Linked DNA regions of Homo sapiens: all the other regions are linked to region 3. Evidence: fine-mapped expression QTL. A gene starts in region 3. Each other region holds a variant in brackets. All regions are shown on one strand. Distances are between the middles of the regions.

Region 1 (8,184 bases), 51 kb before region 3:
CTTCACCCTTAGCGACAAGTCCCGCTTTTCTGGGGGAGGGGCAAGTACCACTCAACCCCTTCTCCTTCACTCTTAGTGGCAAGTCCCGCTTTTCTAGAGGAGGGGCAAGTACCCCAACCTCATATCTCTGTGCCCCAATCCCTTATTTCCATGCCCCAACCTCATATCTCTGCACCCCAATCCCTTATTTCCATGCCCCAACCTCATATCTCTGCACCCCAATCCCTTATTTCCACGCCCCGACCTCTTATTTCTGCGCCCCATCCCTTATTTCCGTGCCCTGACCTCTTATCTCTGAGCCCCAACCCCTTTTCCCACTTTTCTGGAAGGTAAGAACCCCTGAACCCCTTCCTTCCATTTCTCTACTCTCTCTTTTCTCTAGGCTTGCTTCCTTCACTATGGGAAACTTCCACCCTCCATTCCTCCTTCTACTCCCTTGGCCTGTGTTCTCAAAAACTTAAAACCTCAACTCACACCTGACCTAAAACCTAAATGCCTTATTTTCTTCTGCAATGTCTCTTGACCCCAATACAAACTCGACAGTAGTTCCAAATAGCCAGAAAATGGCACTTTGAATTTTTCCATCCTGCAAGATCTAAATAATTCTTGTTGTAAAATAGGCAAATGGTCTGAGGTGCCTGATGTCCAGGTATTCTTTTACACATCAGTCCCTTCCTAGTCTGTGCCCATTGCAACTCGTCCCAAATCTTCCTTCTTTCCCTCCCGCCTGTCCCCTCAGTACCAACCCCAAGCGTCACTGAGTCTTTCTAATCTTCCTTTTCTACAGACCCATCTGACCTCTCCCTTCCTCCCCAGGCTGCTCCTTGCCAGGCCGAGCTAGGTCCCAATTCTTCCTCAGCCTCTGCTCCTCCACCCTGTAATCCTTTCATCACCTCCCCTCCTCACACCTGGTCCGGCTTACAGTTTCGTTCAGTGACTAGCCCTCCCCCTCCTGCCCAGCAATTTACTCTTAAAACGGTGGCTGGAGCTAAAGGCATAGTCAAGGTTAATGCTCCTTTTTCTTTATCCCAAATCAGAAGCGTTTAGGATCTTTTTCATCAAATATAAAAACCCAGCCCAGTTCATGACTCCTTTGGCAGCAACCCTGAGACACTTTACAGCCCTAGACCCTAAAAGGTCAAAAGGCCGTCTTATTCTCAATATACATTTTATTACCCAATCTGCTCCCGACACTAAATAAAACTCCAAAAATTAAATTCCAGCCCTCAAACCCCACAACAGGATTTAATGAACCTCGCCTTCAAGGTGTACAATAATAGAAAAAAGTTGCAATTCCTTGCCTCCACTGTGAGACAAACCCCAGCCACATCTCCAGCACCCAAGAACTTCCAAACGCCTGAACCACAGCGGCCAGGCGTTCCTCCAGAACCTCCTCCCACAGGAGCTTGCTACATGTGCCGGAAATCTGGCCACTGGGCCAAGGAATGCCCGCAGCCCGGGATTCCTCCTAACCTGTGTCCCATCTGTGTGGGACCCCACTGAAAATTGGACTGTTCAACTCACCTGGCAGCCACTCCCAGAGGCCCTGGAACTCTGGCCCAAGGCTCTCTGACTCCTTCGCAGATCTTCTCGGCTTAGCGGCTGAAGACTGACGCTGCCGGATCGCCTCGGAAGCCCCCTAGACCATCACGGACGCCGAGCTTCCGGTAACTCTCACAGTGGAAGGTAAGCCCGTCCCCTTCTTAATCAATACGGAGGCCACCCACGCCACATTACCTTCTTTTCAAGGGCCTGTTTCCCTTGCCTCCATAACTGTTGTGGATATTGACGGCCAGGCTTCTAAACCTCTTAAAACTCCCCAACTCTGGTGCCAACTTAGACAATACTCTTTTAAGCACTCCTTTTTAGTTATCCCCACCTGCCCAGCTCCCTTATTAGGCTGAGACACTTTAACTAAATTATCTGCTTCCCTGACTATTCCTGGACTACAGCTATGTCTCATTGCCGCCCTTCTTCCCAATCCAAAGCCTCCTTTGTGTCCTCCTCTTGTATCCCCCCACCTTAACCCACAAGTATAAGATATCTCTACTCCCTCCTTGGCGACCGGTCATGCACCCCTTACCATCTCATTAAAACCTAATCACCCTTACCCCACTCAACGCCAATATCCCATCCCACAGCACGCTTTAAAAAGATTAAAGCCTGTTATCACTCGCCTGCTAAAGCATGGCCTTTTAAAACCTATAAACTCTCCTTACAATTCCCCCATTTTACCTGTCCTAAAACCAGACAAGCCTTACAATTTAGTTCAGGATCTGCGCCTTATCAACCAAATTGTTTTGCCTATCCACCCCATGGCGCCAAACCCATATACTCTCCTATCCTCAATACCTGCCTCTACAACCCATTATTCTGTTCTAGATCTCAAACATGCTTTCTTTACTATTCCTTTGCACCCTTCATCCCAGCCTCTCTTCACTTTCATTTGGACTGACCCTGACACCCATCAAGCTCAGCAAATTACCTAGGCTGTACTGCTGCAAAGGTTCACAGACAGCCCCCATTACTTCAATCAAGCCCAAATTTCTTCCTCATCTGTTACCTATCTCTGCATAATTCTCATAAAAACACACGTGCTCTCCCTGCCAATCGTGTCCGACTGATCTCTCAAACCCAAGCACCTTCTACAAAACGACAACTCCTTTCCTTCCTAGGCATGGTTAGCGCGGTCAGAATTCTTACACAAGAGCCAGGACAACACCCTGTAGGCTTTCTGTCCAAACAACTTGACCTTACTGTTTTAGCCTAGCCCTCATGTCTGCATGCAGCGGCTGCCACTGCTTTAGTACTTTTAGAGGCCCTCAAAATCACAAACTGTGCTCAACTCATTCTCTACAGTTCTCCTAACTTCCAAAATCTATTTTCTTCCTCATACCTGATGGATATACTTTCTGCTTCCTGGCTCCTTCAGCTATACTCACACTTTGTTGAGCCTCCCACAATTACCATTGTTCCTGGCCCAGACTTCAATCCGGCCTCCCACATTATTCCTGATACCACACCTGACCCCCATGACTATCTCTCTGATCCACCTGACATTCACCCCGTTTCCCCAAATTTCCTTCTTTCCTATTCCTCACCCTGATCATGCTTGATTTATTGATGGCGGTTCCACCAGGCCTAATCGCCACACACCAGCAAAGGCAGGTTTTGCTATAGTACAAGCCACTAGCCCACCTCTTAGAACCTCTCATTTCTTTTCCATCGTGGAAATCTATCCTCAAGGAAATAACTTCTCAGTGTTCCATCTGCTATTCTACTACTCCTCAGGGATTATTCAGGCCTCCTCCCTTCCCCACACATCAAGCTCGAGGAATTGCCCCACCCAGGACTGGCAAATTAGCTTTACTCCACATGCCCTGAGTCAGAAAACTAACATATCTCTTGGTCTAGGTAGACACTTTCACTGGATAGGTACAAGCCTTTCCTACAGGGTCTGAGAAGGCCACCGCAGTCATTTCTTCCATTCTGTCAGACATAATTCCTCAGTTTAGCCTTCCCACCTCAATACAGTCTGATAACAGATGAGCCTTCATTAGTCAAATGAGCCAAGCAGTTTTTCAGGCTCTTAGTATTCAGTGAAACCTTTATATCCCTTACGGTCCTCCATCTTCAAGAAAAGTAGAAAGGACTAATGGTCTATTAAAAACACACCTCACCAAGCTCAGCCACCAACTTAAAAAGGACTGGACAATACTTTTACCACTTTCCCTTCTCAGAATTCAGGCCTGTCCTTAGAATGCTACAGGGTACAGCCCATTTAAGCTCTTGTATAGACGCTCCTTTTTATTAGGCCCCAGTCTCATTCCAGACACCAGACCAACTTGGACTGTGCCCCAAAAAACTTGTCATCCCTACTATCTTCTGTCTAGTCATACTCCTATTCACCGTTCTCAACTACTCATACATGCCCTGCTCTTGTTTACACTGCTGGTTTACACTGTTTTTCCAAGCCATCACAGCTGATATCTCCTGGTGCTATCCCCAAACTGCCACTCTTAACTCTTGAAGTAAATAAATAATCTTTGCTGGCAGGACTATGCTGAATCTCCTTAGGCACTCTCTAATCAGATATCCTGAGTCATCCCAATTCTTAGACATTTTATACCTGTTTTTCTCCTTCTGTTATTCCATTTAGTTTCTCAATTCATCCAAAACCGTATCTAGGCCATCACCAATCATTCTATATGACAAATGTTTCTTCTAACATCCCCACAATATCACCCCTTACCACAAGACCTCCCTTCAGCTTAATCTCTCCCACTCTAGGTTCCCAAGCCACCCCTAATCCCGCTTGAAACAGCCCTCAGAAACATCGCCCATTCTCTCTCCATACCACCCCCCAAAAATTTTCGCTGCCCCAACACTTCAACATTATTTTGTTTTATTTTTCTTATTAATATCAGAAGGCAGGAATGTCAGGCCTCTGAGCCCAAGCCAAGCCATCACATCCCCTGTGACTTGCACGTATATGCCCAGATGGCCTGAAGTAACTGAAGAATCACAAAAGAAGTGAATATGCCCTGCCCCACCTTAACTGATGACATTCCACCGCAAAAGAAGTGCAAATGGCCAGTCCTTGCCTTAAGTGATGACATTACCTTGTGAAAGTCCTTTTCCTGGCTCATCCTGGCTCAAAAAGCACCCCCACTGA[A/G]CACCTTGCGACCCCCACTCCTGCCCGCCAGAGAACAAACCCCCTTTGACTGTAATTTTCCTTTACCTACCCAAATCCTATAAAACGGCCCCACCCCTATCTCCCTTCACTGACTCTCTTTTCGGACTCAGCCTGCCTGCACCCAGGTGAAATAAACAGCCATGTTGCTCACACAAAGCCTGTTTGGTGGTCTCTTCACACGGACGCGCATGAAAGTTTGTGTAAAGATTTATTATACCAAAACTCTGTGAGCAGTTCATTAACCTTCAAGGAACTACCATGTATTACATTCAAAGACAAAGAAAATCAAAACTTTATCTATCTTGGGGCAGCCACGATATTGAAGACAGGTCCGTAGTATTTTCTTGATTCTGAACATTAATTTTGAGCTCTTTCAGAGAAGTAGAGGAAGATGCAACATGGAATGTCCTTTATACATCATTATAACTCCTCCCTGGCTTTCTAGCTTGCCCTGAGGTGACCCACGTTTTAATATGCAACTTGAAAGTCTGTTTAATTTAGAAAGAGTCATGACCAGGAATTTTCAGAGCAAATTTTAAAAGTCATGATGGGGACTGGAAACTAGACCTAAACTTGAAAGATGTTTGTCAGCAAGGTTTTATTGTATTCCATTCGAATCTGCAAGCAGACAAAGCACCAATGATAACGTAGCACCAGCAATAACAATTATAGTAATAATATCTGCCATTTTTGACCATTATCCTGCAATAAGCATTGTGCTTGATATGCATGATTTCGTGCAAGTCTCACACTAACCCTTTGAGGAGACAATACATTTTGTATCCTCATTTTATATACAGAACAAATGGTAGGAGAATTGGGTTATAACAAGGAATCAATAAACAATGTAAATGCATGCTATATGATAGTAGTAGTATCTTCACATTGAAAATAATTTGGCTTCAGTAAAACACATTTTAATCTGTCCTGTTAAATTGCTAATTCTACACTTAATCTTAATTTTTAAGTTTCATGTTTAAGGACTATGAACAGAAGGGTTTTAAATCTTAGGTTTAAATAATAAAAACTAATTCAGTCAGTAATCAGATATATATATATATATATATATATATATATATATATATATATATATATATAGAAAGAGAGGGGAAGAGAGAGAGAGAGCATAATATTGTGATTTATTTTAAGGAATCTGCATTTTACTCAAATTTATGAAGCATTGGAGTACACACTGATAGCTGCAAGAAGACAAAAGCAATGGCCAGGTGTGGTGGCTCACGCCTGTAATCCCAGCACTTTGGGAGGCTGAGGTGGGCAGATCACTTGAAATCAGGAGTCTGAGATTAGCCTGGCCAACATGGTGAAACCCCATCTCTAATAAAAATACAAAAATTAACCAGGCGTGGTGGCACATGCCTGTAATCCCACTTACTTGGGAGGCTGAGGCAGGAGAATCGCTTGATCCTGGGAGGCAGAGGTTGCAGTGAGCCCAGATCACACCACGGCACTCCAGCCTGGCTGATAGACCAAGAGTCCCTCTCAGAGAAATAAAAAAAAAAAAACAAAAAAAAAAAAACAAGAACTGATTATGCTAATCCTGGAGGAAAGAGATCGATGGTAAAGAAATAAAGAAACATGTCAAAAGAGTACTCAGTCATCTAAAAGCCTCCTGCCCAGAAGAGTTGTTGCATTTTTCTTCATGGCCCCAACTGCTAGAATTACAATTAATGGGTGGAGGAAGCCACACACACATGGACCAACACACACATACACACATGCACCCACACATTTACACACACGCACACACACACACAGTTGTGGCAAAATTGAATGAGCTACCTTGGGTGGAAATGAACCTCCTTTCACTGGGGGCATTTCAACAAAGACTTCCATGACTAGTGTGGGCAAGAAGGGTTGACCAGAACATTAAGACCCCTTACTGTGCTAGGATTCTCTGCCTCTTAGGGGAAGAGTGTTGAAGCTGGGAAGTCAGAATTAATGTCACCATTTTGCCATGACTAGATCTGTTTGTGTTGAAACCTCAAAAAAATAGGCAGTATCTTGAAGACACAGAGACACCAACCAGGGGAGGGAAAGTACTTGTTTTTTCCAAGGAACTCCTTAACAACGACAAGGGGGTAGAGGAAGGAAAGTATTAATAACTGGGCTGATGACATGTGAATGACAATAGAACAGCCTCTCATGCCTTGCAGATGATAATCTCCCCAGTGACCTTTCTCCTTGCTACACGTTTTCACAGAGAATCCAGCTCCCCAAACCTCCTTTCCGCAACTCACCACACTCCCACCTAAGACATGCATTAAATTGGCTCATTCCTCATGCCAGAGAAGTCTAGATAGGAGAAAATGAGTCTTTATTGGCAAGAAAGAGCCAGCAGACAGATAGCAGATGAATGGGAAGGAAAGATCACTCGGCTATTTTAAGAGAACTGACAGGAGGCGGGTACAGTGGCTTATGCCTGTAATCCCAGCACTTTGGGAAGCCAAGGCGGGCAGATCACTTAAGATCAGGAGTTCGAGACCAGCCTGGCCAACGTGGTGAAACCTTATCTCTACTAAAATTACAAAAAGTAGCCAGGCATGGTGGTGCACGCCTGTAATCCCAGCTACTTGAAAGGCTGAGGCAGGAGAATCACTTGAACCTGGGAGGTGAAGATTGCAGTGAGCCAAGATCGTGCCACTTCATTCCAGCCTGGGCGACAGAGTGAGATTCCATCTCAAAAAAAAGAGCGAGAACTGACAGGAGATGCACAGATGAGCATCTCTGAGAAGTGAAAGAGCCCAGGTCACTGAAGCTGATGGAGACCTAGGGGAGCTTGGTGACAGTGGAAATGGCCACATTCGTGTCACGGTCCAGCATCTGTGGCAGAAAAATATAACAATCAATTAAAGTTACAGTAAATAAACAAATACAGACCAATTACATATCTTCCTCCTTTTCTGCAGTATAAAAAGCAGTGATCACCGTTTCCAAATTTTACAGGATGTTGATAAGTGGGAAAACATACTTCAAATTATTTTGTTTCCATAAAGAATGTACGTAATATTTCTGTAAAGTTGCATTGATTCAACATACCTAAACCTGATTTCTTGTATATAGTAAATAAAACAGTGCATATCTTATTTTTCCCTGGTTTATAAGTTATCAAAAAAATGGATAAAAAATTATGCCTGAGCGGTTGTGTATTTCCTCCATATAATGGTTCCGTATACACTCATCATAGCATACCCCCTCTGCCACCCAGTTTAATGTTGCAACCCTTGCCATTCCCTCTTACGGGTGTCATTCCTCTAACTCTGCTTTTTCTTTTCCCCATAATTACCCTCAAACGCAATGGATAACATACTTCTTTGCTTTGTTTATTGCTTGTCTCTTTCTGCTAGAATGAGGACTCCGTGAGGGCAGAGGGTCTCTGTCTGTGCTTTCCTTCATATTTCCCGTGTCCACAACAGAACCTGCCCCATGGGGCACTTGGTTCATATTTGTTGACTAATTAATTGCCCATT
Region 2 (8,184 bases), 91 kb after region 3:
TGCACCTTCCCAAAGGAACTGTTGAATTAGAAACTTCTGCAGAGATTATAAACCTTTAGAAAATAAAGCATTTTATCCTGCACAAGAATATTCACATTCTTACCAGGAATCCAACTATCCAAGTGTTTTGTTGTTCCTGCAATAAGTTTGATTTAAACTCTGGAAAACTGTTTTTTAAAAAAATTCCATGTCGATCACTAGCATCCCTCTCCCACTCCCCTCTCCCTACCCCGATAAGCCTTCACATTTATTTTGAGACAGAAAAGAGAATGGCTGGGCTCTGATTCTGACTGCCAAGCTTATAGATATCCCAGCTCTAGAGCTGCGTGTCCTGGGCAAGTTTCTTACCTTCTCTGTGCTTCATTTCCTCGTCTGTCAAAGGAGGATACTAATAGAAGCGACTTCAAAAGGGGTATTCTGAGGATTACGTGAGATATCACCTATGTAATAGATGATGCGTGTGACATATTTGTTAACCGCACCTGGCAGGAACTGCTCCCTCCTCTTGCCACCTCAGTTCATGAATAATAGGTGTGAAAATGCTTCTCACATTAGGCAGTAATACTGATAAACCCATAGAAATGTTTCCTTTAAAGAAGGCATTTTTTTTTTTTTTTTTTACATCTTCCAAAGGTTAAAAGCACTAGTTCTGGACTGAAAGAGAAAAGGAAATATTTATAGTAAAACAGGAAGGGAATCTTCATCTATTTAAATGGGAGCACTGTTTCCTTAGCACTTTTTAAAATAACCCTCATGCAGTCTTCCTGAGCTTTTAGCCTGTCTGTGTGAATGCCTCAGATTTCAGCTGTCTGCAAGGTTCTTGCTACATGCAGAAGGCAAGCATGCCCCGTCACGTACAGTTGCTGAGGCTGCCTGCCTTCTTCAGGCATGACTGTAGGGCTTGACAAGTGACAATGATGGTTTAAAATGCACACAATGCCAGTGTTTTCATTATGATCTCTGTTAGTTATGCTAAGGTATCTGCAAGAACATCCAAAGTCGGGGCCCCAGGAATACACAGATTTCACCTTCTGCCTTTCTTTCAGTTCCACAAGGAGAGATTCAAAATTGACATGCCACACAGATTTAAAGTCTACAATTACAAGAGCCCGACCTTCTGTGAACACTGTGGGACCCTGCTGTGGGGACTGGCACGGCAAGGACTCAAGTGTGATGGTGAGTCCAGTGGGGGATGAGCATGGCCCGACGTGGACCCCCTAGGGGATGGAGCAAGGCTTTCTGGGGAACTGGAGGGAGGATGTAGGGGGTACCACTTCCACACCCAGCCCAGACAAGTCATGATCATAAGTATGGTCTTCTGGGGCAATAAGCCACTATGTTCCTTTCCTTGCACCCTGCAACACCCCCACCCACACATCCCAGAAAAGAGCACAACAGTTCAGGTTCAAGGTCAAACTCCTAGCTCCATCACCTTCTGCCGTACCATAGCCCTGGGGGAAATGAAGACAGTGTTTCTCCTCTCACTGGTCTTTCTACTACTAGTTTCCTCAGTGGGCTCTGGGCTGCCCCTTCCTAATCCCAACAGGTCTAGCTGTGTGGTACCCTAACCCTTCTCCTTTGCACCAGCCAGTAAGATTCTTTCTGTCATCTCATCAAGGAGCAAGCCCAGCACATTCATTTGGCTGACACATGGTCCTGCACAGAAATTCTGTAACATTAGCTTGAGCATCCATCCCTAAACCATTGCTGTGAACTCCAAGTGCCCAGTAAGAGGCTGGCCCGGTTGTGACCGTCATTGCCTGTTTTCTGGTCTTTCCTCCAAGGCCAGGATCGCAGCAGAGCCTAACCTGCCATTCATTATTGATGGAGTTTCTCAGACCTACCATCAAAAAAGGAAACAAGGCAAGGCTTTCTTGCTGTACAACTCCAAGTTGCTAAGGCGATAACGTTTAGAAGCTGAGATGCTGTTACACTAGGATTAAGGACTAGGGAAGAAAAAAAAAAACCCTCAAGAACTGACAAGGCACTCTGCTTTCTGGTTGGGGAGAGACGTGGGCAGAGCCCAGAGAATAGAGCCACAAAAGGAGAACCACCTGTTGCATACAGACAGCTTCTGATTTTTTTCTTCTTCTTTTACTTTTTTTCTGAGACAGGGTCTCACTTTGTTGCCCAGACTGGAGACTGGTGTGCAGTGGCTCGATCACAGCTCACTGCAGACTTGACTTCTTGGACTCAAGCAATCCTCCCACCTCAGCCTCTCAAGTAGCTGGGACCATGGGCATGTGCTACCATGCCTGTTTTTGTTTTTTTTGTTTTTCTTTGTTTTTTTTTTTTTTTAGAGGTATGGTCTTGCTATGTTGCCCAGGCTGGTCTCAAACTCCTGGGTTCAAGCGATCTTGTCTCCTCAGCCTCCAAAAGTGCTAGGATTACAGGAGTGAGTCACCATGCCTGGTGAGCACAGACCTTTTCTTATGATGAAGTATTAAATATATAAGCCACTTTATTTTTTCTTGGCAGCCCTATTTTGATCAGTGCTACTGACTAATGTATGTCCTCTCTTTTGAGCAATGAGGTACGTGATGGAAGGCGGCACAGCATCTTCCGCATTCTCCCCTTCTTCATCCCAATCCTGTTCACATGTCTGGTGGAACCCAGAGCGACCTCTCAGTGGAGGCAGGAGGGGTTAGGTTTTCAAATCATTACCTAAAGCAGACATCACAGGAGGCCAACATTAGCCTCAAGAATCCGTTCCTGGCCCCAAAGGACACTGACACGCTTTTCTCTACACCCCTGTTCAAGAAGACATGGATAGGCAGGGTATTAAGAGTTCATTAGGAGGTCAGAGACAAAACGTAGTGTCCCGGCATCCTGCATCCTGACGGTATCCACAGAAACAGGAGAAATTCTCGCCTCTTGGTTCTCCTGTGATGGTCTCAGGTCGGGTTCTCTGTCCTGGGAGCCCGAGAATCCACTTGCAAGAAGAGCTGGTCCCAGCAGCGCCGCGGCACAGCTTAGAACTTCCCAGGGGTTCCTGGGCGTTATTTCATGGCTCTTCTGCCTGCTTCGTTTCATTTCTTTCCTTGAATACTCTTTCCTTTCCGCTCCATTCTGTTCCCCGCTCTCTCCTACCACCTACATTTCAAGTGCTCCCCTCCCCTTTTTCTTTTGTCCCCTCTCCTCTCCCTCCCCTGCCCTGGTTTGTTTTCCATTCTTGCTTCTGACACTCCCGGGTCCCTGCCCCTCCACTGTGCTCACCCCGCCTGCTCCGCTCACCCCGCATGCCCCCGCGTCCTCCTTTCTCGACTCTTCTCGCCCTCTTCTCCAGCTCTCTTCCCTCCCTCTCTGCCTCCCTTTCATCCTGCCTCCTTGCAGGCCGTCGTCTTAAGTAGGGCCTCCTTAGCCTTTTACCCTGCCTTCTCTTTCTCCCCACAATAATTCCCAAGAAAATAGTCATCCAAAGGGACTCTTTGCCCTCCAAGAAACTGAGTTACGGCCTGATAGGTTAGTAACAAAGACTTAGGACCTTCTCGTGGAGATGGTGGTGGCCTTTCTTCGCGGCCATGCAAGTCACAGAGAAGCCTAGATGTGGCTACAGTTTTAAGGAGCAAAGTAAAACTCCATCCCTCTATGTTCAATCCTAGCTGACAACCTCACTTGGTGTCACGGTGATGCATAAGAAAATGGAGCTGGGGCTACCGAAGTTGAAACCTGACACCTTCTAAATAGGGCGAATGTGAGTTATGCGAGTTTTGCCGACAATGTGGAATTTGGAGCACAATCATGAAAAAAAAAAATCCTTTCTATAGTAAAGATTTTAGGCCGGGCACGGTAACAGACCTGTAATCCCAGCACTTTGGGAGGGCAATGCGGAAGGATGGCTTGAGCCCAGGAGTTTGAGACCAGCCTGGGCAACAAAGTGAGACCCCCATCTCTACGAAAAATAAAAAAATTAGTCGGGTGTAGTGGTGTGCACGCCTGTGGTCTCAGCTACACAAGAGGCTGAGGCAAGAGGATGGCTTGAACCCAGGGGTTTGAGGCTGCAGTGAGCTATGATTGCACCACTGCACTCCAGCCTGGGCAACAGAGCAAGACCCTGTCTCAAGAACAACAACACAACAACAAAGATTTTAAATATGCAGAAAAGATTTTGCTTCAGGTGAATTTTTCTGGCTATATCTATGCCTATATACTCGGTCTAGTAATGGTTAATAGTTGACCGGGCGCGGTGGCTCACACCTGTAATCTCAGCACTTTAGGAGACCGAGGTGGGCAGATCACTTGAGGTCAGAAGTTGGAGACCAGCCTGGCCAACATGGCGAAACCCTGTCTCTACTAAAAACAAAAATTAGCTGGGTGTGGTGATGGGCGCCTGTAATCCCAGCTACTCAGGAGGCTGAGGCAGGAGAATCTCTTGAATCCGGGAGGCCGAGGTTGCAGTGAGCCAAAATCGTGCCACTGC[A/T]CTCCAGCCTGGGTGACACAGCGAGACTCCATGTCAAAAAAAAAAAAAAAAGTAATAGTTATTTACATAGAAAATTCTGCTTTATTTTATTATTGAGCTATTTGAAGAAGAGTGGACCAGTGAAAACTACAGGTGAGGGTTGCCCAAATTTCACCTAAATATTTTAATATCTACATCTATGCAATAAATGATGAAGATGAAAAGGAAGTTGTATTTGTTGAGCGCCTGCTCGATGCCAGTCATTGTGCTAAGCTTCTTTGCACACACATGTGCAAATCAGCAGATAAGATTAAGACTGCATGATGTCATAGCACCTGGTGCCTGCTTCTATTACAACACTCTCTACTCACAGACTCTGTCAGCTGGAGTTTGGAAATCTTTATATCTGATTTTTCTGTATTTTAATGGTGATGTTTCTTTTTTTTTTTTTTTTTGAGACACAGTCTCGCTCTGTCTCCCAGGCTGGAGTACAGTGGCACGATCTCAGCTCACTGCAACCTCCGCCTCCCAAGTTGAAGTGATTCTTCTGCCTCAGCCTCCTGAGTAGCTGGGATTACAGATGTGCACCACCACACCTGGCTAATTTTTATTGTTATTATTTTTAGTAGAGATGAGGTTTCACCATGTTGGCCAGGCTGCTCTCAAACTCCTGACCTCAGGTGATCTGCCCGCCTCGGCCTCCCAAAGTGCTGGGATTACAGGTGTGAGCCACCACGCCTGGCCTTTAATGGTGATGTTTCATTAGCAAAATTTGAATTTCTAAAACTAATAATTGTCTTTACACAGTCACATGGGCACACGCTCTCCAGTCCAAGAGGGATCTCTTGGTCACTGGCAATGGAAGTTAGATTCTATGCTACTGTTTTCAAGATTCATGAATCAGAATACTCACCCTGAATTGTAGGATCCCCAAGCTAGAATCCTGTATAGATCATGAGTCCAGTGCTGGAGATCCTTAATCGGGAGCCCCCAGAGCGTTCATGACTTGCCCAAGGTCACACAGTGTCCACGCTGTGCAAGCTGCCACCAGCACCCCGTTCTCCACCCACCTGACAGGTGCTCGAGTATTTCCCTCTCCTCTTTCTTTTTCTTTAACATCTTATGTGACTTATAAAGATGACAGAAAACTTTGGTTCTTTTTCTTCGAGTTACCTTTCATAACAGGTTGTAGATGTCAATTTACGCCATCAGTTCATGCGTGCAAGAAATATCACTTTCTTTATGACTGTGAGATCCACTTAGTTAACATTCTCATCTAGTAATCCTTGGGGCCCTCTACCCTTCCCATAATCACACGAGGTTTTCAGGAGGCATGGGTACAGGGGCCTGGAAACTGGGGAATGTGCTCAAACACCCGGTTGCTGTTGGCCTCCTCATCTAAGCCCACACTGGTGAAGCCTGTGGCTTTATGTTTCCACACCGTGTGTAGAGTTTGTGATTTTTTTTTCAAAGCTGAGGTCCTCATGCCTGGTCCAGTCTTGCTAGGTGTGTTCTGCCGTGACCTCTCCTGGCATTGCTAGCCTCCTCCTACTCCATCCCTTCCCACATATACACTCCGGCTCCACCGTCTGATATCCATCTGCAGGCTGAGGCTGCCTCCTGGGCTTCAACCTAAAGGCTGGGGGAAGCTCTTCATGGCCCAGGTGGGAAAGGGGATGTTTTGGACCCAGACTGGAGTGGGCAGGAATATTCTTCTGATGCAGGGCAGGTGAGCCCCAAAGTGGGGCTTAGCCCAGGAGAGTTCTTGGCTTCGCCCAGGAAGAATTCAAGGGTCGGCTGTTGGTAGAAGAAAACAGCTTCATTGGCCAACGGTATTACAGTTCTGTTGGTGTTACAGCTCCATGACTGCTCCTGCAGAGCAGGGCTACCCCAGAGGCAGAGAGTAGCAGCTCAGGGCAGTGCTGCAATCCTATTTATACCACTTTTAACTACATGCAAATTAAGTTCCTGGAAAAAGGGTGGTAACGTCTGGGTGTTGCCATGGCAACACTAAACTGACATGGCACGCAGGTGGGCATCTTCTGGAAAGCTGCTTCTGCCCTGTCCCTGTTTTAGCTAGTCTTCAATTTGGTCTGGCGTCTGAACCCCACCTCCAGAGTTGAGTCCCACCTCCTACCTCACTTCCCTTCCAGCACGAGGATCACTACCAGGGAGAGCCAGGGTCAACTTCCTCCCAGCCGTGGCACTTTAGGCTTTCCTCCCTATCCGCAAGGCTCTGTCTTACCTCCAGAGAGAGTTGTTTAGCACCAGGGGGTTCTTCCACTCTTGCTCACTATCTGCCTTCTTCCTTCCAGCATGTGGCATGAATGTGCATCATAGATGCCAGACAAAGGTGGCCAACCTTTGTGGCATAAACCAGAAGCTAATGGCTGAAGCGCTGGCCATGATTGAGAGCACTCAACAGGTAGGAGCATGTGCCGTGGACACGTTCCCGCCATGGCCGCTCAGCAAGGATGTCCATGCACTTCTGCTGCTTCACCTGTGGCAGCCCTATGGGAAATGCCGGGATGTATTTCTGAGCACCGGCCTTGCCCTTGGCTTTCATATCCATGCCCACACCCCCTATCTTTGAGATATTTATTTAATGCATTTGTATTATGCAGATCTTTATAAAATCTTAAATTCTTCATGGCATGAGCATTGCAGAAACAAATAAATTCATTAAAGTTATTGAAGATTCATTGACAGCTTTATGTGAATATATTCGGGTTATAGAATAGCCTGGGGGAAAACACTTATGTGCTAGCATCATCCTCATGGAACACCGAGTCCAGGGCAAATTTGGCCTGCTGTTTACTGTTTTGGCATTAGCTGAATTCCTAGATCCAAGGATAAACCCTCTTTAAGACTTGGCATTGCCTGTATCAGCTGTTTTCCCATCCATTAACTACCTGTCCTTATTTGTGATGGAATGATGTAGACAGCATGAGAGAATCCTGTCAGCCCCAGAAAAGTGTGAAGGAGGCAAACGTGTTCGGCTAATGCATAAAATACAGTAGATAGACTCTCCCAGAATATGGGGTTCCAAAAGAACGTTGAGGATAAGGAGATCTTTGTTGACCCTATGCATTTAAACATTTTAAATGGCCTTTGTCCCCATCGTTAGCAGGCTGAGCTGTTCCATCAATGGTGGGTGGGTGGGTGGTCTGACTCTCTGTTTGTCATCCAGGCTCGCTGCTTAAGAGATACTGAACAGATCTTCAGAGAAGGTCCGGTTGAAATTGGTCTCCCATGCTCCATCAAAAATGAAGCAAGGCCGCCATGTTTACCGACACCGGGAAAAAGAGGTAGCTGTCCTGATCAGCAGTCTAATCACTGTCAGTCATTAATCTCAATTAACCCTAACCTAATGCCCTTGGATTTAAGTTATCAGCTTACCTGGTCTGATAGGTGATCCACCTCCAGCTACCAACTAAGAGGCTCCCACTTCTTAGAAAAGAAACTAAAACCTTTTACCTTTGTAAAAGGCAGGAGGTGGGGGTTAGAAAATGGGATAGGTCTGGAGGGAACAACCACAAATGTTTTCTTAGAGTTTCAGCATGTTACATTCTGTCAGTGTCAAATGGTTTCACAGAAATAAATCTGTCTTAAAATTTGATGGTGGGAAGGCCACAGAAGACATTCTTACTCTGCACCTTTGAGACTTAAATTTAAGGGTAGGAAAGAGAAGGACTCAAAGCCACTTTCATGACATTATGGCAGTTTTTCCAGCCTACTGTTTGAAAGCAGTTCATGAGTGGATATGACCCATGTTTCTGAGACCT
Region 3 (8,166 bases):
TCCATGGGAGACAGAGTATAATCACCAACTAGGTCCAAAAGAAAAGCAAAGTCGTGTCCTGGGTTCCTTTTTCCAAGTTCCGAGTTGTGGGAAGATGGGTTGTGGCAGCTCCGGGAGCAGACACATAGGATTTCCTCCTTCCTCAGCTCTCAGGAGGGCCGCTGGATCCAAGGCAGGGGTCAGGTATTTCCGAGATGAAGTGAACTGAATAGGGCGGCTACCCGAAAGGCAGTCCTCAGCATTATTCCAGGAAACATCAGGGCAGAACCTGAAAGAGGAAAAGAAGTACACAGCTGAAAGTTAGGGTGTGTTTAACGTAGTGAGTGGAACCTCACCGCCCACGTGTCATCCCCTCCAGGAAATGCCATTTCCTCTTCCAGGAAACAAAGGTGTGGAGAACTTCTGAGAGCAGCCACGTTTATATAACTAAGAGACAGTGTCTAATAGAAAACAGAAACACCCCATGGCCTGGGAAAGGAGATGGCGGGTCTACAGGATGCTGGCATCAAGAATATCTAGAGGTGTCCACTACACCTAATGGATACCAAGAACAGATGTGAATTTTTTGTTTTAGATGAAATTTTACGATAAAAAAATCCCAATTTTGTAGATATATGATGGATGTTGTTTTAAAAGATCTGATCTTCAGGTTAACGGGTTTCCTGTTGTAGGACTATACGATTATAGGACAATTGAGTAGCCAAGAGTCCTCAAAGATCAGTTGTCCAAAAGAGAAAGAAAGAGAAAACTGAGTGTACGATGTAAGAATGGAGAATTGGCTGGGCGCAGTGGCTTATGCCTGTAATCCCAGCACTTTCGGAGGCTGAGGTGGGCGGATCACCTGATGTCAGGAGTTCGAGACCACCCTGGCCAACATGGTGAAACCCGTCTCTACTAACAATACAAAAATTAACTGAGCATGGTGGCAGGCACATGCCTGTAATCCCAGCTACTCAGGAGGCTGAGGCAGGAAGAATCACTTGAATCCAGAAGGCAGAGGTTGCAGTGAGCCAAGATTGTGCCACTGCACTCCAGCCTGGGTGACAGAACAAGACTCCATCTCAAAAAAAAAAAAAAAAAAGGAGAATTAATTATTCAGCAGCTCTTGAGATGGTGGCTCCAGCCTGACCTGGGTTTGAATCTTGGTTCTGGTACTTTAGTAATTGTGGGATCTTGAGCGAGGTACATAACCTTTCTAAGCCTTGTTAGTCTCTTCTGTTAAAGAGAGATGATAATGATGATGATACATATCACATCAGATTATGAATATTATATGAGTAGTGCGTCTAAAGTCATCACAGGCTGGGCATGGTGGCTCACCCCGATAATCCCAGCATTTTGGGAAGCTGAGGTAGGAGCATCACTTGAGCCCAGGAGTTTTAAACCAGCCTGGGCAACATAGTGAGACCCCGTCTCTACAAAAAAATCTTTTTAAATATTAGCTTGGTCATGGTGATGTGTGCCTGTAGTCCCAGCTATTTGGGAGGCTGAGGTGAGAGGATAACTTGAGTCCTGGGGGATCAAAACTGCAGTGAGCTATGATCACGCCGCTGCACTCCATCCTGGGCAACACAGCAAGACTCTGTCTCAAAAAGAAAAAAAAAAGTCCTTATCATACCTGGTGTATATATGAAACTTTTTCTAAAGCCACTAACTACTGATTAAATTAACAGGACATATGAGCTTCCTTTCAGTGCCTAATTGTCAATGAGAAACCCAGATATGGAGCGTGAGGAATCTACCATCTTCTAGGCACAGTAGCTGTTATCCGTTTGCCATTTCTTCTTTGCACTGTAACAGGATCCGCTGAAAAACAATTGGAGAAAGAGCCAGATGGATGGCAGTCTGAACTAGGGAAGCTTCTGTTTTGTAGTTTGCAGAAAGAATCTGCATGGGGATCACTGCTTAAGCTTTGCCTCTTTGTTTCCAGACACAGACGCACTTTCCTGCCTAATTTCCATAGCAAATACCCAATGAGCGCCTACTGTATGCCAGGTTCTGATGATGTCAGAGTGAGCCAGCACTTCCGAGGTACTGGCCACTCTCAAACCTCCTGGCTAGGATCTTCCAAGAGCTACAGCCTCTGGCCTGAGGGTCAGTCCAATGCTGTTAGATATTGACAAATGCGGGGCTAATTTTAATGGAATATAGTTTTATCCTTAAAAGGTGTGTGTGTTTTGGCTTTATTTGGGTTCATATAGATTAGGGGCATCATCATAACTCGCTTCCTAGTGCAGACCTGAGTGATTTAATCAAGTCTTGAAACACTTCGGGGCCTCAGTTTTTCATCTGCCTTCCCAACCTCTGAGGTTCTTTTTAGTTGACATCCTACATTCCCATGATCAGAAGGCTGCTAATTCAACTTTTGGCTTTTGTTAAACCTTTTTTTTTTTTGAGGCAGAGTTTTGCTGTCACCCAGACTGCAGTGCAGTGGTGAGATCTCAGCTCACTGCAACCTCCTCCTCCCAGGTTCAAACGATTCTCCTGCCTCAGCCTTCTGAGTAGCTGGGATTACTGGCACGTGCCACAACACCCAGCTAATTTTTGTATTTTTAGGAGAGACACGATTTTGCCATGTTGGCCAGGCTGGTCTCAAACTCCCAGCCTCAAGCGATCCACCCGCCTCAGCCTCCCAAAGTGCTGGCATTACAGGCATGAGCCACCGCACCTGGCCTGTTTTGTTTTGTTTTAATCGTTTTTAATGTCTCTCTCAAAACAAGAAAAGAAAAAAGGACAAAAAATTACTATTTTACTTCTCAGATTAATCTGATCTTAGTACACTACAGCAACAAAAGTCTTAATCAAGTACGTTTTAATTATTTGGTGTCATCATTGCAAGGAAACCATTCAGTAAGAATATTAGTAACCAGACATATAATTTTCTAACCTGAATGAGAAATTAGTTACATGGAGTATAGAAAAAGAAACCACCCCGTTTATCCTCCCTGTGACCATCATTAGTATTACCCGCAAGGCATAAAAAGTCCTAAAATGACACGCACGGCGGCAACATTACCTTTGCAGCTTCAAGCACAGTAAAGTTGAAAGCAGTCCCACCTTGGCAATTGTGTATAAAACGACAATGTGCAGATACAGGAAAAGTCCCAGGTCCGAAGCCACCTAGGAACGATGACCCCAGGACAGAAGTGTGCCCAAACAAATGCCTGGGGTAGGTCATTTTAAAAGGAACAATGTTTACAAGCCCTTTCTAGCGTGAAAAACAGAGAAAAGAGACCCAGCTCTTTCCACCCAATCTGCTGGAGCGCCGTTTCGTTTTCAGTTGGGCGAGAGGGAGACATGTGGCCTCTCGCCCCTTTTCCTGACTCTGAGAATGTGGCCGGAGCCGGGGCGCTCCTGCTCCGCCTCGCCGCCCTCCCGGGGCTGTCCTGGGCCCTCCGGCCGCCGCCTCCCGCTCCAGTTCGCAGCTGGGCGACAAGTGGCTGGTAAGGAGGCCAGGGGCGGGAGCCTGGGCGCGGGACCGGGGGCGCACGGCGGGGGACCGAGCGCGCGTCCCTGGCTAGAGGTGCCGGGTCCCGGGAGGCCGGGCTGGCGGGGAGGCTGGCGAGCGCCCCCTGGCGGGCACCGCCTTCTAGGCGCACCCGCAGTGCGCCGGGCCCGCCAGCCCCGCCAGCCCCGCCAGCCCCGCCAGCCCCGCCAGTCCCCGCGCAGTCCCCGCGCAGTCCCCGCGCAGTCCCAGCGCCACCGGGCAGCAGCGGCGCCGTGCTCGCTCCAGGTAGGGCCCCGCGCCCCGCGCCGCCGCCGGGAGGGAGCGGGCTGGAGGGGCCGAGACCCGTGGCGAGAAGGGCTACCCGGGCCCCTCGGAGAGCCTCCGGGAAGGGGTGAGGGCTGCCGGGTGAGCAGGCGGAGTAGGAAATGGAACCAAGCGGGCGCAAGAGCGCACCGGGAAGAATTTCCCCGCTGGGTTTCTGGGACGCAGGTCGCACGGGATGCGGGATGCTGGCGACCTTAGCCGGGTGGGGGCCGCCGGCCTGGGGGCGCTTCCTCCTTTCTTCTCCCTTTTCCTTCTCACCTGAACGAAAGGGGGCCTGCGGGGAGGGAAGAAGGTGGAAAGTTTTTGTATTCTTGGTAAAAAAAAAAAAAAAAAATGCGTGAGGAAACATGTTTTCTGGAGATGGTATCCTGTCCACAGGGGAGCATAACCCCTTTTCTGGGAATGTATTGGAGCACGGACGGGGGTGCCATTGCTCAGGCTTCTAAACAAGCCAAGTTTCTGGTCAAGGGCCTGGGGGAGGGGGAGGCAGGTCTTTGAAAGATACCAAAAAAAAAAAAAAAAGAAAAATCTGCGTGCTCATTCCTGTAGCCTCAAGTGAGGTTATTCCCCAGCTTTGAGGGCCAGGTTAACCAAGCAAAGTTTGTGCAATAAAGTATCTTTGTGGTATTGGATTTTCGAGAGCCACCGTTATCAATGGGAGAGTGACTGTTGAATGCTACAGGCGTGTGCACTCCCCCGTGGGCATGAAGAGAGGTCCACGGGCTGGCTGGATTGGGAGACTCCGGTCATTTCTGCAAGGAGAGCGCCACAGGACTGCCTTGTTCCCTGGGCTGTCCTGCCCCTGTGCGGGCTGGACGTGGTGCTATAAAAGATGATTCAGGAGTGGCACAGGCTGAGGGGGACTAGGCTGGAGAAGGTGGAGGGAAGAGGGAGCACTCCGTGCCCTCTTCCTGTCCATGGGAAATGAACCATCTGTGCCTGGTGTCCAAGTCCTTGACGTTCCAGTTGCCCTTTGAGAGCACACCTCAAGCCTGCTGAATTCTTTTAAGAACCACCTACAAGATCTGAGAAGTCCGCCCATGCTTTCTGTCAACTCCGGCCTCTTTGACCTTTTCTTTTGCCAAAGAAAATTCTAAACCACTGGGATTCGTGAGGCTCCGTGAGAGAGGCAAGAAGCCTGGAGGGTCCACTCCGTTGCTCTTTTCCCTTGGTTTGCTCCCTAGAAGCCATGGTCCCCACTGGGCCCTTCTTGCCCGAGGCTGTGTGATAGACAAGCCCTATTCCTAAGGTCCTGGGTCCCCCACCCCACCCCACACCCCGACCTTGTGAATCATCATCTTCATATTTTCCCTAACTTATCTTTGGTAACCCTTGTAAAATGGCAGGCTTACTGCGGATGCTTAATCTCTTTTAAAAGTGCTGTGTCTAGCGGGAAGAAGAGTGACATTTACTAATATGGTTGCAAATTACTTTTGAAGTTTATGCACAGCTGTTTAAAATCCCTCTGAGATCAGTGCCATTGTTTGATGCAGGTGCTTACCGCAGAAGGCTCTTGTTAGTCCCTTCCTCCTGCTGATTGAACATACATATATTTAAAGACGTGGCGTAGGGAGAGCTTCTAAAACCTGCAAAGCCAAAGCTGCACAGCTCCTGCAAGTTAGCGATCCACTCTAAGTTTTTCAGTTGTTGTTTCTGTCTTCTTGCCTCTCATGAACTTCTGTTTCTGATTTCAAGAGTAACCTGCTGGGCACCATCAGCCTTTGTTTCAGTGACCTGCGATTTTCTTCTACACTTTAAAAATGTCAATATCCAGGCAAGACTCTTGTCACCCACCATCCGCGTTGTCATGTTCATTTCCGCTACTGTCTTGTGCTGTGGTGCCTCGGGATGGCAACTGTTACTTGAGGAGCTAACTTCTACCTCTGTTCTCCTACAGACATGTCCTCATTGCGTCTTCGCTCACCATACACGGTGCAGCTCCTGGAAATTTGATTTGTTTTGCTGTCTCACTTCTCCTTCAGGCAACAAGGGGATGGTGTTCGATTATTCACACCTCAGCTCCTTCTGTAATCTCAAAGATCCCTTTCAACAATAATACTCTCTGTCTCTTGTTAACGCCAGGCATCAGAAGCCCCCTTACATAGCCGGCTTGTCACTGGTCATTTCTATAAAGTATTCTCATTCTAACACATGCTGTCTCTTCCGTGGAAAAGACTAAATTCTTCTCTGCAATGAATTAGATGTTTTAACCAAAATTCCATGTGGACTGGGTCCAGAATTTTCTTTCAAGAGTATGGGCTTGTGGTACAAGTATGTAACTTCGGGGATTCAGAAGTAGACCTACACAGACAAATCTCCTTATAACGTGTTATTTAATTATGGTATATTTGCCTTTCTGGAAATTAGGAATTAGAGTTAGTACTTCCTGTTTTTAATGCATTTGATTGATGTCTTAGAGTTGCTGATTATGTTGTTGCCCCTAAAAATGTTGCTAATGTGCTGGTTTGTTAACAAGGTTATATTTGATTTCAGGTGATTTCCTTTTTATGGAGTTCAGTCTTTAATTTTTTTCAATAATTTGCCTCAAATCATTTAAAATGATATATTGTTATATAATGAAAATCCCAGCAATATAGACGTGATTCCGTGTGTGTGTGTATGTGTGTGTGTAATCTGTAATTTAAAATAGAGAAATTAGTATTGTGACGGCATACATAGCATTAAACTCATGCTTGCTGTTTCTGTTGTTTTAACACTTTAAGCAGCTCATTTCTAAGCAGCTATGTGTTCAGCTCAGCTTTTTCATACCTATTCCAATTGTTAAGGAAGAAGTCATGAGAAACTATAGAAAAATGTGATGTTGAACCAGAGAGATGGATTAAAAGCTGTTTCCTTACAATGGTGAAAATATCTTTCATTATTTTAACATGCCAAGCATTTATACATGTCAAATTCTGATTGCTCTGTCATCTAAACACATTCTTGGGGACAAAATGAGCATCAGAGTTTTAAAATTAGGAAAGCTCACTCAAGCCCAGAATCATAGATTTTTGCTCCTGGATTAAATTAGCAAGTATTTGGCAGGACATCTTTCTGCAGGTTGCTGTAGGTTGATGTTAGCTTTTGAATTAAGCTAATAGTATTAATTATAATAATAATAATCAGCATCAACAAAACCAATGAAATATGGTTTTGAGTCTTTATTATTTAGAATTTATGTGCTGTATATCATACTCAGAATTTTATTTATATGTAAGAGGCATTACTGCTTCATTTAACCTCCAAAAGCCTTTATAAATTAGATATTATTATTATTCCAGTTTTTCAGATGAGGAAACTGAGGCTCAAGGGGTAGAGCCCCTTGTCCAGGTCTTATAACCAGTCAGTGGTAGAGTCAGGTTAGTTGGACCATCCAGATTAGTCTAACCATCAAGCATTTGCTTTAAACCGCAGTCCCAGGTGACCTACCAGTTAACTTTTTTATTGTGGTTAAAATACACATAACTTAAAATTTAACTTCTTAACTATTTTCTAGCGTACAGTTCAGTGACATTAAGTATATTCACATTGTTTTGCAACCATTGCCATCATCCATCCACAGGATTCTTCTCATCTCCTAAAACTGAAACTCTGTCCTCGTGGAACATTCGTTCCTCATCCGTCTTTCCTCTCAGCCCCTGGCAGCCACCCTTCTACTTCCTGTCTCTAAGATTCTGACTGCTCTAGGGACCTCACAGAAGCAGAATACAGTATCCATCCTTTTGTAACTGTCTTATTTCACTTAGCATAGTGTTCTCAAGCTGTATCCATGTGACAGCATTGGACAGGACTTCCTTCCTTTTTAAGTCTGAATACTATTCCATTTATGGATATACCACATTTTGCTTATCCTTGTATCTGTTGATGGTTGCTTCTATCTTTTGATTATTGTGAATAATGCTGCCGTGAAGAGGAACACGCAGATATCTGTTTGAGGTCCTGCTTTCAATTCTTTGGGGTATGTACCCAGCAGTAGAATTGTGGGGTCGTAGGGTAATTCTATGTTTAATTTTTTGAGGAACTGCCATATTGTTTTCCACAGTGGCTGGACCGTTTTACATTCCCACCAGTGGTAGAAAGGGTCCCAATTATTCCACATTCTCAGCAACGCTGTCTTTTGTTTTGTGTTTTTTGAGATGGAGTCTCGCTGTGTCGCCAGGCTGGAGTGCAGTGGCATGATCTCAGCTCACTGCAACCTCTACCTCCCAGGTTCAAGCAATTCTCCTGCCTCAGCCTCCTGAGTAGCTGGGACTATAGGCACGCGCTGCCACACCCAGCTAACTTTTGTATTTTTAGTAGAGATGGGGTTTCACCATGTTGGCCAAGATGGTCTCGATCTCTTGACCTCATGATCCACCCACCTTGGCCTCCCAAAGTGCTGAGATTACAGGCGT

What was found. PIP is the estimated chance that this variant, and not a neighbour inherited with it, causes the effect.
Region 1: its variant is fine-mapped to the expression of PRKCQ in iPS cells (HipSci, PIP 0.95).
Region 2: its variant is fine-mapped to the expression of PRKCQ in whole blood (INTERVAL, PIP 0.98).

The regions. Positions count from the first base shown.
Region 1 is chr10:6,626,283-6,634,466 of GRCh38, reverse strand. It overlaps LINC02648 (long intergenic non-protein coding RNA 2648), which reads right to left. Exons shown (of 6, transcript NR_120634.1): 5 at 6,090-7,537. Among named protein-coding and RNA genes, the nearest start is that of LINC02648, 12 kb to the right of the region's middle. RefSeq lists an enhancer at 4,147-4,718. The variant A/G (reference allele first, on the strand shown) is at 4,676.
Region 2 is chr10:6,484,675-6,492,858 of GRCh38, reverse strand. PRKCQ (protein kinase C theta) reads left to right here. Exons shown (of 18, transcript NM_006257.5): 8 at 1,047-1,176; 9 at 6,715-6,824; 10 at 7,590-7,707. LOC107984202 (a long non-coding RNA gene) reads right to left here and starts at 390. Exons shown (of 2, transcript XR_001747350.2): 1 at 349-390. The variant A/T (reference allele first, on the strand shown) is at 4,421.
Region 3 is chr10:6,575,778-6,583,943 of GRCh38, reverse strand. It overlaps PRKCQ (protein kinase C theta), which reads left to right and starts at 3,668. Exons shown (of 18, transcript NM_006257.5): 1 at 3,668-3,733. PRKCQ-AS1 (PRKCQ antisense RNA 1) reads right to left here and starts at 3,519. Exons shown (of 2, transcript NR_036503.1): 1 at 3,017-3,519; 2 at 1-268. RefSeq lists an enhancer at 163-457 and silencers at 3,257-3,406, 3,417-3,666.